3 linked regions of the Homo sapiens genome follow. The protein of the gene in region 1 interacts with the protein of each later gene in a pairwise test. Each region holds a gene or a part of one and is shown in the gene's direction. Other genes may lie near its edges. The genes, in order: SPANXN2, TNNI1 and BIVM.

Evidence for each region.
Region 2: the proteins of SPANXN2 (region 1) and TNNI1 interact in binary tests that used the Homo sapiens proteins (3 or more experiments, as listed by UniProt).
Region 3: the proteins of SPANXN2 (region 1) and BIVM interact in binary tests that used the Homo sapiens proteins (3 or more experiments, as listed by UniProt).

What each region holds. Positions count from the first base shown.
Region 1 is NC_000023.11:143,711,412-143,714,713, reverse strand, and holds the end of SPANXN2 (sperm protein associated with the nucleus on the X chromosome N2), read left to right. Parts: intron 1-2,214; coding exon 2,215-2,679; 3' UTR 2,680-2,759; downstream 2,760-3,302.
Region 2 is NC_000001.11:201,411,658-201,415,310, reverse strand, and holds part of TNNI1 (troponin I, slow skeletal muscle), read left to right. Parts: intron 1-56; coding exon 57-98; intron 99-661; coding exon 662-793; intron 794-2,189; coding exon 2,190-2,279; intron 2,280-3,653. UniProt on the Homo sapiens protein: Troponin I is the inhibitory subunit of troponin, the thin filament regulatory complex which confers calcium-sensitivity to striated muscle actomyosin ATPase activity.
Region 3 is NC_000013.11:102,819,547-102,823,199, forward strand, and holds part of BIVM (basic immunoglobulin-like variable motif-containing protein), read left to right. Parts: intron 1-1,490; coding exon 1,491-1,586; intron 1,587-2,196; coding exon 2,197-2,301; intron 2,302-2,518; coding exon 2,519-2,613; intron 2,614-3,653. Other genes in the region: BIVM-ERCC5 protein, read left to right, coding at 1,491-1,586, 2,197-2,301, 2,519-2,613.

The sequences.
Region 1 (3,302 bases):
AGTATAAATGGAGGTAGTTTTTGCCCTTATTGGTATTAGGGCTTAAGGTGGCATATTTAGTTGTGACTTTTGAAAGGCAGGAGAGGAAACGAGCAGGGACAGCTTTATTTATGCCAGCTAGAAGGCATGATATCATATGGCCTGATTTCTGTCTGTCTACTGAAGTTGCCTGATAATTCCAACTGGGGCCAGTTCTGGGGACAGCTAGGGTCCCTATTGGATTATGAGCAGCATCTTGTTGGTGGAGGGTGTTCTCATGGACCTGGGCACCCATAAAGATGTGTTCCCTGTCCTCCAGGGTGAGGGTAGAGGAGAGGATGACATATATGTCATGCCAGGTAAGGTCATAAGATTTAGGGAAGTACAAGAATTCCTTGTGGAAGGAGGTTGGATCCATTGAAAAGGAGTCAAGTCTCCTTTCAATATGGGAAAACTCAGCTAGAGAGAAGGGAACTTGAATTCAGATTATGCCTTTAGCCCTCGCAACCTCCTGCAAGGGAAGGACTTTGGAAGGCCTTTGGGCATGTGCCTGGTTCCTAGCGAAAGGGGGTTGGGTGTGAGACCTGGTTTGAGGTGGAGAAGGAAGGGGGATGGAGGGCGACAGTAAGGGGGTGGAGGAGCCGGATCCGAAGGAGAAGGTGGAGGGAATGGGAGAGGGCAGGAGGCTGAAGAACGGGTGTGTTGGCCAGGTTGAAATTCAGAGGAAGAAGACTTGTCCGGAGGAAGAGGCATTTTGGGGGGTTTCTCCTTGAGGAGGAAGATTTGAAAAGGTGAACAAGATTGGCAGAGAGAGAGAGAGAGAGAGAGAGAGAGAGAGAGAGTGAGGCATGAAAGGAGATAAGCAAAGCACTTCAGATTATTTACCATTGCATTGAAGAAAGTTTTTTAGATTATGTTGAATTTGGAAGTTGAATGTTTTGTTTTTTGGAAGAGGGGAGTGAATACTCTGGATGGGAGTGACTACCCCTGAGGAAAGTGAGTACCCTGGAAGGGAGTGAGTACCCCAGGGGTGAGCGAGTACTCCAGAGAGAAGTGAATACCCCATAGGGAAGTGAGTACTTGATTCCTCCTGGGAGAAGGGACCTGGAGAGTTGGGGCAGCCCCGTACTATTCATGCTCCCCAGAGGCCAGAGCAGCCAGAGTGGCAAACGTTTTGAAGGTGTACCCTAAGAAGGGAGGCTGCAGTCACCTGGTGACTGGGGAGACCTCTCACCCAGCACTGGAATTTTTTGGAGAACGGGCAGAAATAGAGAGGAATCTGGAAAGGAGGAAGAGGGAGACTCACCCACTAATTGAAGCCCAGTGTTGGATGTGATGTCCAGAAATGGGGGTGATCCTTGTTGCAGCTGCCCGGAAACAGGAAGGAACAAAAAATAAGGTGGCTTGTTTGATCACTATCTGGAGGTTAGCCCAGGTCTGGAGAAGACTAGAGAATAAGGAGAATGGGACTGGGAACAGGGAGTACACTCAGGATCTGGAAGCAGGCCCTGGTCTAGTTTGTGCTGCTTGCTGCTTTCCAGGTTGCAAGAGAAAACTTACCCATTAGAACCCAATCACCACTCCAGGTTTTGGCACCAAAATGTTAGGTTTTGAAGGGAAGGCAAGGATGAAAGAAAGACACACAGGGGGCAGCTCAAACAGCAACACAGGAATATGGCAGACACCTATGGAAGTGGAGGACAAGCTTAATGCCAGAGCCCACCGCCGCTTACAGGCTGGGGTACTTACAGGGATGGGCAGGAGGGATCTGGGCAATGTGGGATGCTATCCGGCAGGATATTGATAAGATGTTCTTATGATCAGGTGGTTTGGCCCTTTTTCCAGTGGAATATCATTGTGGCGTTCCTTAGAACTTTGCCAAGCAAGATATGATAGGAATGTTTCTTTAGTTGGGCCTTTGTCCGCCCTGTGGTCAGGTGGTTAGGCAGGATGTTTCTCACGGCCTGAGCCCCCATGGAGTGTCTCACTTTGACCAAGGTCTGCAAAATAGCAAAGAACTTGCGAAATCGTGCAGTTTGGACTAACAGATGACCCTACCCATGCTCCTCTTCTTCTTCCCCATAGATCACTACCCTATGATTCCACCTTGTTCTTCTCTGGCACAAACCCCTTCCTCAACCTGCATTCCTTCTCATAAAGCCCCCCTTGCTATCCAGTCTCTACCCTATTCACCCAAAATAATGACTTTCTGGCCTCTCCCTGTTTTCTTATCAGATGCAGGAGGCACCGAACAGGGTCTTAGCCCCCAAACAGAGCTTGCAAAAGACAAAAACAATAGAATATCTAACAATAATAGTGTATTACTACAGGAAGCATACGAAAATAAATTCAAATCAACTGGAGAAGGACCAGTCCCGAGAGAACTCCATCAATCCAGTCCAAGAGGAGGAGGACGAAGGCCTAGACTCAGCTGAAGGATCTTCACAGGAGGACGAAGACCTGGACTCATCTGAAGGATCTTCACAGGAGGACGAAGACCTGGACTCATCTGAAGGATCTTCACAGGAGGACGAAGACCTGGACTCATCTGAAGGATCTTCACAGGAGGACGAAGACCTGGACTCATCTGAAGGATCTTCACAGGAGGACGAAGACCTGGACCCACCTGAAGGATCTTCACAGGAGGACGAAGACCTAGACTCATCTGAAGGATCTTCACAGGAGGGTGGGGAGGACTAGTCAAACATGGAGAAACCAAATTGGACAAATCCTCACTACCAATGGCGATGATTACAATAAAATCAAGTTTGAGGAGCTGATGACCGTGTATATCTCTGCCTGTTGTCTGATGGTGGGAAGGAAGGGAAGGGAAGAGGTAGGCATTTGAGAAGGGAAGGATATGAGATCCTGTAGGGTTGGCGGACAGACCCACAGGTTGACAGTTTCCCAGACATTGTAAATAAGGCCTGGGGGAGGACTTATTCCTAGAGACAAATTTTCTTCTTAAAATTTTATCTAACAGGAGAGGAAGAAAAGGACTTGGTGTTTGGAGCATGTGAATATGTAGAAGGGCATTTAAAAAGATCTGTATTGGCCGGGCACGGTGGCTCATGCCTATAATCCCAGCACTTTGGGAGGCCGAAGCAGACGATCTCCTGAGGTCAGGAGTTCGAGACCAGCCTGTCCAACATGGCAAACCCCAGTCTCTACTAAAAAAAAAAAATACAAAAATTAGCTGGGAGTGGTGGCAGGTGCCTGTAATCCCAGCTACATGCGAGGCTGAGGCAGGAGAATCACTTGAACACAGGAGGCGGAAGTTGTAGTGAGCTGAGATCTGGCCACTGCACTCCAGTCTGGGGGAT
Region 2 (3,653 bases), on another chromosome or scaffold:
ATTCCAGTTCTGCAGCCTCTGCCTCACCACCTGTCTCTCTCTCTTCTTGCCCACAGAGAAAACCCAAGATCACTGCCTCCCGCAAACTCTTGCTGAAGGTGAGGCTGGGGGCTGGCTGTGGGGGGATGCCCAGTGGGAGGCAGAGGGGCAGCAGAGCAGACTCTGAAGGGATGTGGAGGATTATGGCAAGGAGAAAGGAAGGAGGCCAGAGTGAGGATGATGAGGGGCAGGAGTCCAGCATTGCTGGAGCCAGTGCCAGGCTCAGGTGATCAGTAGGTGGGATCCTCGAGTATGGATTCTGGCATCCGCCTGTGGTCCCTAGAGTAGGTGGTGACCAGCTTCAGAGTGGGAAGCTACTCATGCAGGCAGAGGGACTTCCTTTATTTTCATATGTGTTTCTCTCTTTGGAGTTTTGTGGGTCAAAACAGACAGTAAGTGGATAAGAGGAAGACTGTCCGGGGAAAACAAGTTCCAGGGCTTGAGGAACATTGTGTGCAGCCACTGGGTGTACCCTCATGGTGGCCTGTCCATGGCTGCTGCATACACTTCTACACTGGACAGTGGTCTCAGAGTTGGCCCAGGCTGTGGCTGCCCTCCCCTCATTCCCTGATGCCGGGTGGGAGATGTGAGGCCCCCAGCTCAGCAGGTGTGTCCTGTCCAGAGCCTGATGCTGGCCAAGGCCAAGGAATGCTGGGAGCAGGAGCACGAGGAGCGCGAGGCTGAGAAGGTGCGCTACCTGGCAGAGCGCATCCCCACGCTGCAGACCCGTGGCCTGTCCCTCAGTGCCCTGCAGGTTAGCCTGGCAGGTGGGGCGGGGCAGGGTGGGGCTGGAGGTGCTGTGTGGGTGGCTCCAAGGACCAGGCGGCAGGAGCCTGAACTAACACCAGCTCAAGGCTCCATAATTTACAGGGCACTCCTCCCTTACATGGTCTCATTTAATCTTCACAACCACCTGTGAGGTGGGAACATTAGATTCCATTTTACGGGCACTGAACTGAGCATCAGAGGGGAGGCGTGACTTGCCTGGGCTGGGCGGCCCAGCTTCACAATCAGCCAGTGTGGTGGCATGGAGTGGGGAGGCGGCCGGGGTTGGGAGAAGCCCCACTTTTCCAAGGACTTGTCTACCCTTTCCTAGAATTTGGTCTTCAATGTTTTCAGAACACTGGTAAATTGGTTAAATGCCAGTGATTATAGAGAAAAGAGACTGGAAGGAAGTATATCAAAATGTTACTAAGTATCCCTGGGTGGTGGCATCACTAGGTATTTTAATTTTTATTATTTTTGTTTAATACATAGTTTTCAAAATGTCTAAAATTAACGCATTACTTTTATCATAAGAAAACTATTTTATTTTGCTGGGCACAGTGGCTCATGCCTGTAATCCCAGCATTTTGAAAGGCGGAGGCAGGAGGATTACTTGAACCCAGGAGTTCGAGACCAGCCTGGGCAACATAGTGTGAGACCTTTTCTTTATACAAAGTTTAAAAAAATGAGATGGGAGGGTCACTTGAGCCCAGGAGGTTGAGGCTGCAATGAGCCATGATGAAAGAATACTTTTTTTTTTTTGAGGCAGAGTCTCATTCTGTTGCCCAGGCTGGAGTGCAGTGGCGTGATCTTGGCTCACTGCAACCTCTGTGTCCCAGATTCAAGTGATTCTCCTGTCTCAATCTACTAAGTAGCTAGGACTACAGGTGCACACCACCATGCCTGGCTAATTTTTGTATTTTTAGTAGAGACAGGGTTTCACCACATTGGTCAGGCTGGTCTTGAACTCCTGACCTCAGGTGATCCCCCACCTTGGCCTCCCAAAGTGCTGGGATTACAGGGATGAGCCACCGTGCCCAGCCAAGGATACTAGTTTTTTGTTTGTTTGTTTGTTTTTTTGAGACGGAGTCTCGCTCTGTCACCAGGCTGGAGTGCAGTGGTGTGATCTCAGCTCACTGCAACCTCCGCCTCCTGGGTTCAAGCGAAGGAATACTATTTTTTAAGAAATCATGACATTCAGACAGGAGAACAGAGGGCATACCCTTTGAGCTATTGCCCGTCATGAGCCTCAGAGTGGAGGAGACTGTCAGCTCCTCTCTGGATCCCAGGTCTTGCAAAGGGGCTGGGGAGAGGGTCAAGGGCTGGAAACTGATGTCTCTGTTCCCCTCTTCTTCACACCTGCATGATCCATCTGCGGCCCCCAGGACCTGTGCCGGGAGCTGCACGCCAAGGTGGAGGTGGTGGATGAGGAGCGATACGACATTGAGGCCAAATGCCTCCACAACACCAGGGAGGTGAGTCTAAGGAAGGGAAGGGGCATGGCCATAATGGGTTGGGCAGGGGCATGGGCACGGATGCAGCAGCCATGGGAGGTCCCCTCCTTCCACAGGGCCTAGGAAGGGGCCACTTAAGCAGGAAACTTTGGTTTGTCTGCCCTAGCCCCATAGGGCTGGAGATGGGTAGAGTGGATAATCACACATGAAAAGTACAAACTTCCTCCCTACCTGCCATGTGGGCTCATCAGCCTAACAGAAGCTGCTCTCTTTATCCACCCACACAAATAATCATATGCCTGTTAATAACGTCTTACCTTTGTGAAGTGCTTTCATGTTCGTTATAGCCTTTGATCCTCCTTATAGGCCTGTGGATGAAGTAGGGGCTATTATCTGCACCTTGCAGAGGAGAACACTCAGGATCAGAGAGGCCAAAGACTTGTCCTAGGTTGCACAGTGGTGGTCCTGGGACCAGTGCTGGTCTCTGGCTTCCACTCCGGTGCTCTGTGCTCCCTTAGCATGGGGTGTGGGAGGATTAGCTCCACCCAGACCCTGCTCCAGTGGGGAGGGGCAGAGCAGAGAAGGACAGGGCTCCTTTGGGGCATTTGTCCAGGCAGTGAGGAGGGGGCAGGGAGGGAGCACAAGCCACTTCTCTCCTTCCCACTTCTGCCCACCAGGAATTATATGTGGGGTCACCAAGCTCCTAAGAACTCCCCCTAGAGATCACACCCTGGGAATTCCTCCAGGGGTCTAGGACCTGTAAGTTTATCACCCTGCTGGACCAAGGCTGTGAGCTGCTTTGAAGGCTCACTGGGGAGGAATAAGTTAGAAGCAGGGATGAGGCTGCAGGAACAAGAGGAAGCAGCCCTGCACTCCAAATAGGGCTTCCAAATCAGACAAGTCTCAGTCTGGTGGAGCCGCCCCTTTTATTCAAGGCTATAGTGTTAGCAACGGCTAATAGGCTTTATCTGTCCACTTAACCATCCGTTTATCAGCAAATGTGCAGTGGTTATTTGCAAAGGGATGGGTGGGTCTGACTGTCCTAGAGCAGGGATCTCCAACTCTTGGGCTGTGGACCAGTACCTGTCCGTGGCCTGTTAGGAACTGGGCCACACTGCAGCAGGTGAGCAGTGGGCAAATGAGCATTCCCGCCTGAGCTCTGCCTCCTGTCAGATCAGCGGCGGCATTAGATTCTCACAGGAGTGTGAACCCTATTGTGAACTGTGCATGTGAGGGATCTAGGTTGCACGCTCCTTATGAGAATCAAACTCATGCCTGATGGTCTGAGGTGGAACAGTTTCATCCTGAAACCACCCCACCACCTCTCCGTGGAAAAAGTGTCTTCCACAAAACCGGTCCCTGGTGACAAAAAGGTTGGTGACTGCTGATAGGTCT
Region 3 (3,653 bases), on another chromosome or scaffold:
CGAACAATGTGAACACATGGACGTAGGGAGGGAACAACACACACTGGGCCCTGTCGCGGGGTGGGAACCGGGGACAGGAGAGTATCAGGAAAAATAGCTAATGCACACAGAGTGTAATACCTAGGTAATGGGTTGATAGATGCAGCAAACCACCATGACACACATTTATCTATGTAATAAAGCTGCACATCCTGCATGTATACCCTGGAACTTAAAAAAAAATATTGAAGGGTCATGGTTAACTTGTATGTGTGCCAATATGCATAGTATATATACATATACAAATGCATATATGTACACATGCATATGTCTAATTTTTCATTTTGTAATTAATTTTTAGACCACACTAAAGTTGCTCTTAGTGATGATAGGGCTTGTTTCTTTGTTTCATTGTGGCTACTTCTTAGCACCTTCTTTAGAAAGCAGTTAGGAGAAGATCATTTGAAGGCCAACGAGTGTTGTGGGTTATTGTTAAGCTGATTTAACATTATCTCCCCCCACAACCACGCTTGACTAGCTTCACATTTGGCCAGGTGCAGTGGCTCACGTCTGTAATCCAGCACTTTGGGAGGCTGAGGTGGAAGATCACAAGGTCAAGAGATTGAGACCATCCTGGCCAACATAGTGAAACCCTGTCTCTACTAAAAATACAAAAATTAGCTGGTTGTGGTGGCGCACGCCTGTCGTCCCAGCTACTCGGGAGGCTGAGGCAGGAGAATTGCTTGAACACGGGAGGTGGAGGTTGCAGTGAGCCAAGATTGCACCACAGCACTCCAGCCTGGGCGACAGAGTGAGACTCTGTCTCAAAAAAAAAAAAAAAAAAAAAAAAGAGAAAGCAAACGTATTTCTTCTTAAAACAGAATAAATAAATAGTCTGTCTCTTTCTCCTTCTGTTCACATTTGCCCCAGTTTCTTCTCTTGAATCATGACAGTTTGGAAAATTGTCTGGATTGCTTAGTGCCACTGAATCATGCCATGGAAGGATTTTGTATTTCACTTTTAAACTTCTCTGTGACAGGAGAAGCACTGCTTCATGGCTTCTTGCCCAAGGATTTTAGATGGACACAGTGGGTAATAAATGGATGAATTTTTGTTTGGGTTGAAGAATCTCTCTGAGAAGTTGACACGTGGGGGCAATGGTTTGTTTCTCTTGTATTTCTGAAGTTGCAAATAATCATGTAAGCAGTTCAACCAGGAGTTTACACCAAACTTTTAATAGGCGATATATCATTATTTTTTTTCCCATTGGTTTGGATAACATCCACTTTAACTGGCAGTTAGTCATACTTAGCTATTTTTGTTAAAGCAGGTGATTTATTGTTATTTTATATTTATGACATGATTAATAAGTGAATATGGAAGATTTTACATTGACTTAGGGGATCAAAGTTTTCATTATATTAACACCTTTAATTGCCATGAGTTTTCTATTTCTAGCATGCATATTTTGTGTTCATTCAAGTGAAGAAAACAGTCTTTTGTGTTCTCAGGTACTGCATAAGCCGACCACAGTATAAGACTTCTTGTGGCATCTCTTCATTAATTTCTTGTTGGAATTTCTTATACAGCACAATGGGAGCTGGAAAGTAAGTATGTCAATTTATCAGTACCCCCAAACTCCAAAGTAATTTGATGTTGCTTTTTCTATAACAGAAAAAAATTTAAGAATAGATTTTTTATAAATTTAACAAAACCCTGCTGTATTTTAGTGTAAGTCTTTTAGCTTAAAATATATACATGTATTATTTTCAGTGAAATAAAAATGGGCTGGGTACAGTGGCCCACACTTGTAATGTCAGCACTTTGGAAGGCCAAGGCGGGAGTATTGCTTGAAGCCAAGGAGTTTGAGACCAGCCTGGGCAACAAAGCAAGACCCCACCTCTACAAAGTAAAAAAATAAAAACAACTAGCCAGGCACAATGGCATGTACTTGTATTTCTAGTCTCTTAGGAGACTGAGGCAAGAGGATCACTTGAGCCCAGGAGTTTAAGGCTGCAGTGAGCTATGATCACGCCACTGCACTCCAGCCTGGGCCACAGAGTGAGAACCTGTCTCTAAAAAAATAAATAAAATAAAATAATGAAAAATATTACTAATATTATTTGCAAATCAGACAAGCATATTAACATTGAGACAGGCTGTATTTGCGTATGACTGGAATTGAAAAATGAAAGGCAATGAATGTTTCTTTTGTAGCCTTCCACCTATTACCCAAGAAGAAGCTTTACATATTCTGGGCTTTCAACCTCCATTTGAAGATATTAGGTTTGGTCCTTTCACGGGGAATACAACACTTATGAGGTATGAAGACCCTCTTAGAGGCAATATCGTGTTTCTAGTTTTGCAAAATAATAATGATGTAGATGTGTGTTGATAGTAAACCATGTATCCAGCTGCTGGGCTTCAACCTCTCATAGGTATACCAACTTTGGGCTATGCCTGAATTTCTTTAGAATTGGAATAATGCCATCTTTGTTGTAGAATTGTTGCCATGAACAAATCTTCTTGTTACTTTCAGGTGGTTTAGACAAATTAATGACCACTTCCATGTAAAAGGATGCTCTTATGTTCTATATAAGCCTCATGGGAAGAATAAAACAGCAGGAGAAACTGGTAGGTAAACATATAGAAGATTTACATACACACATACACACATGCACACACACACATACACACACACGGTTTAGAGTTCGTCTCAAAGACTGCCTGTTTAGCTTCCTGGGACATTATGTAAACCCTCAGCACAGTCTGTTACTTGCATGTAATCTGTAGGGCACTTTTTAATAAGCAGTTTAATATTTTACCTCTTCTAACCTTTTTATGTAGAACCTTTAGAACTTTAAGGTATATCACAAACACTACTCTAACACATTGTATTGTTTGGGTCCGTGGTGTGTGTGTGTGTTTGTGTGTGTATGTATGTGCGTGTGTACGCGCACATGCTAGTAAAACTCTAAGGAAGCAGCATGGAGTTAGCAGTTTTCTTCCTAAGAAGGAATGTAAGGATTTGAGAATATTTGATGTTAGACCTGTGTGGTGACATATAATGGCAGGAAAATAGACTGTTGAAGTGACAAAGTTCTGCTATAAAATAGTCTTGTTTATAACAGAAATATTAATGGAGTTGATCTCAAGGATTATTTTAGTTATGTGCTAATTAAATAATTTGTACTATTTAGCAATTTCCATTTTTAAAATTGTTACAATCTTTTGACTGTGTAAATCAGAAAATTGTAATACATTGTTAAAGAAAAAATTATTCTGACACTTGTTAATAGGGTGAGAAGACTTTATTTTAAACTTGTGAAAGGCCTATTGTAGTAGGAATGAGAGATCAGGCTCAGCTCTGAATACAGCAAAGACAACAAAGACAACTGGGACTTTATAGCCAAGGGACACAGCGAGGGGTTTGGGGGTGGGATATTACTAAGAGGGTCAAGGGTATGGGGATTCTTGCTAAAGCCTAACAGACTTCTTGCTAAAGGCAGGTCAAGGGCTGAGACATCAGGAGTTGGCAGGGGACGTCCGTAAGGAACTTGATTAGATATTAAGGGTTGTGGGTTCTCTCTAAACTGACTTAGCAGGATTCATGCTAAAACTGGACACAGAAGTCTAAGGTCCAGGCCTGTTTGAGAAGAGGACTCAAGGATTAA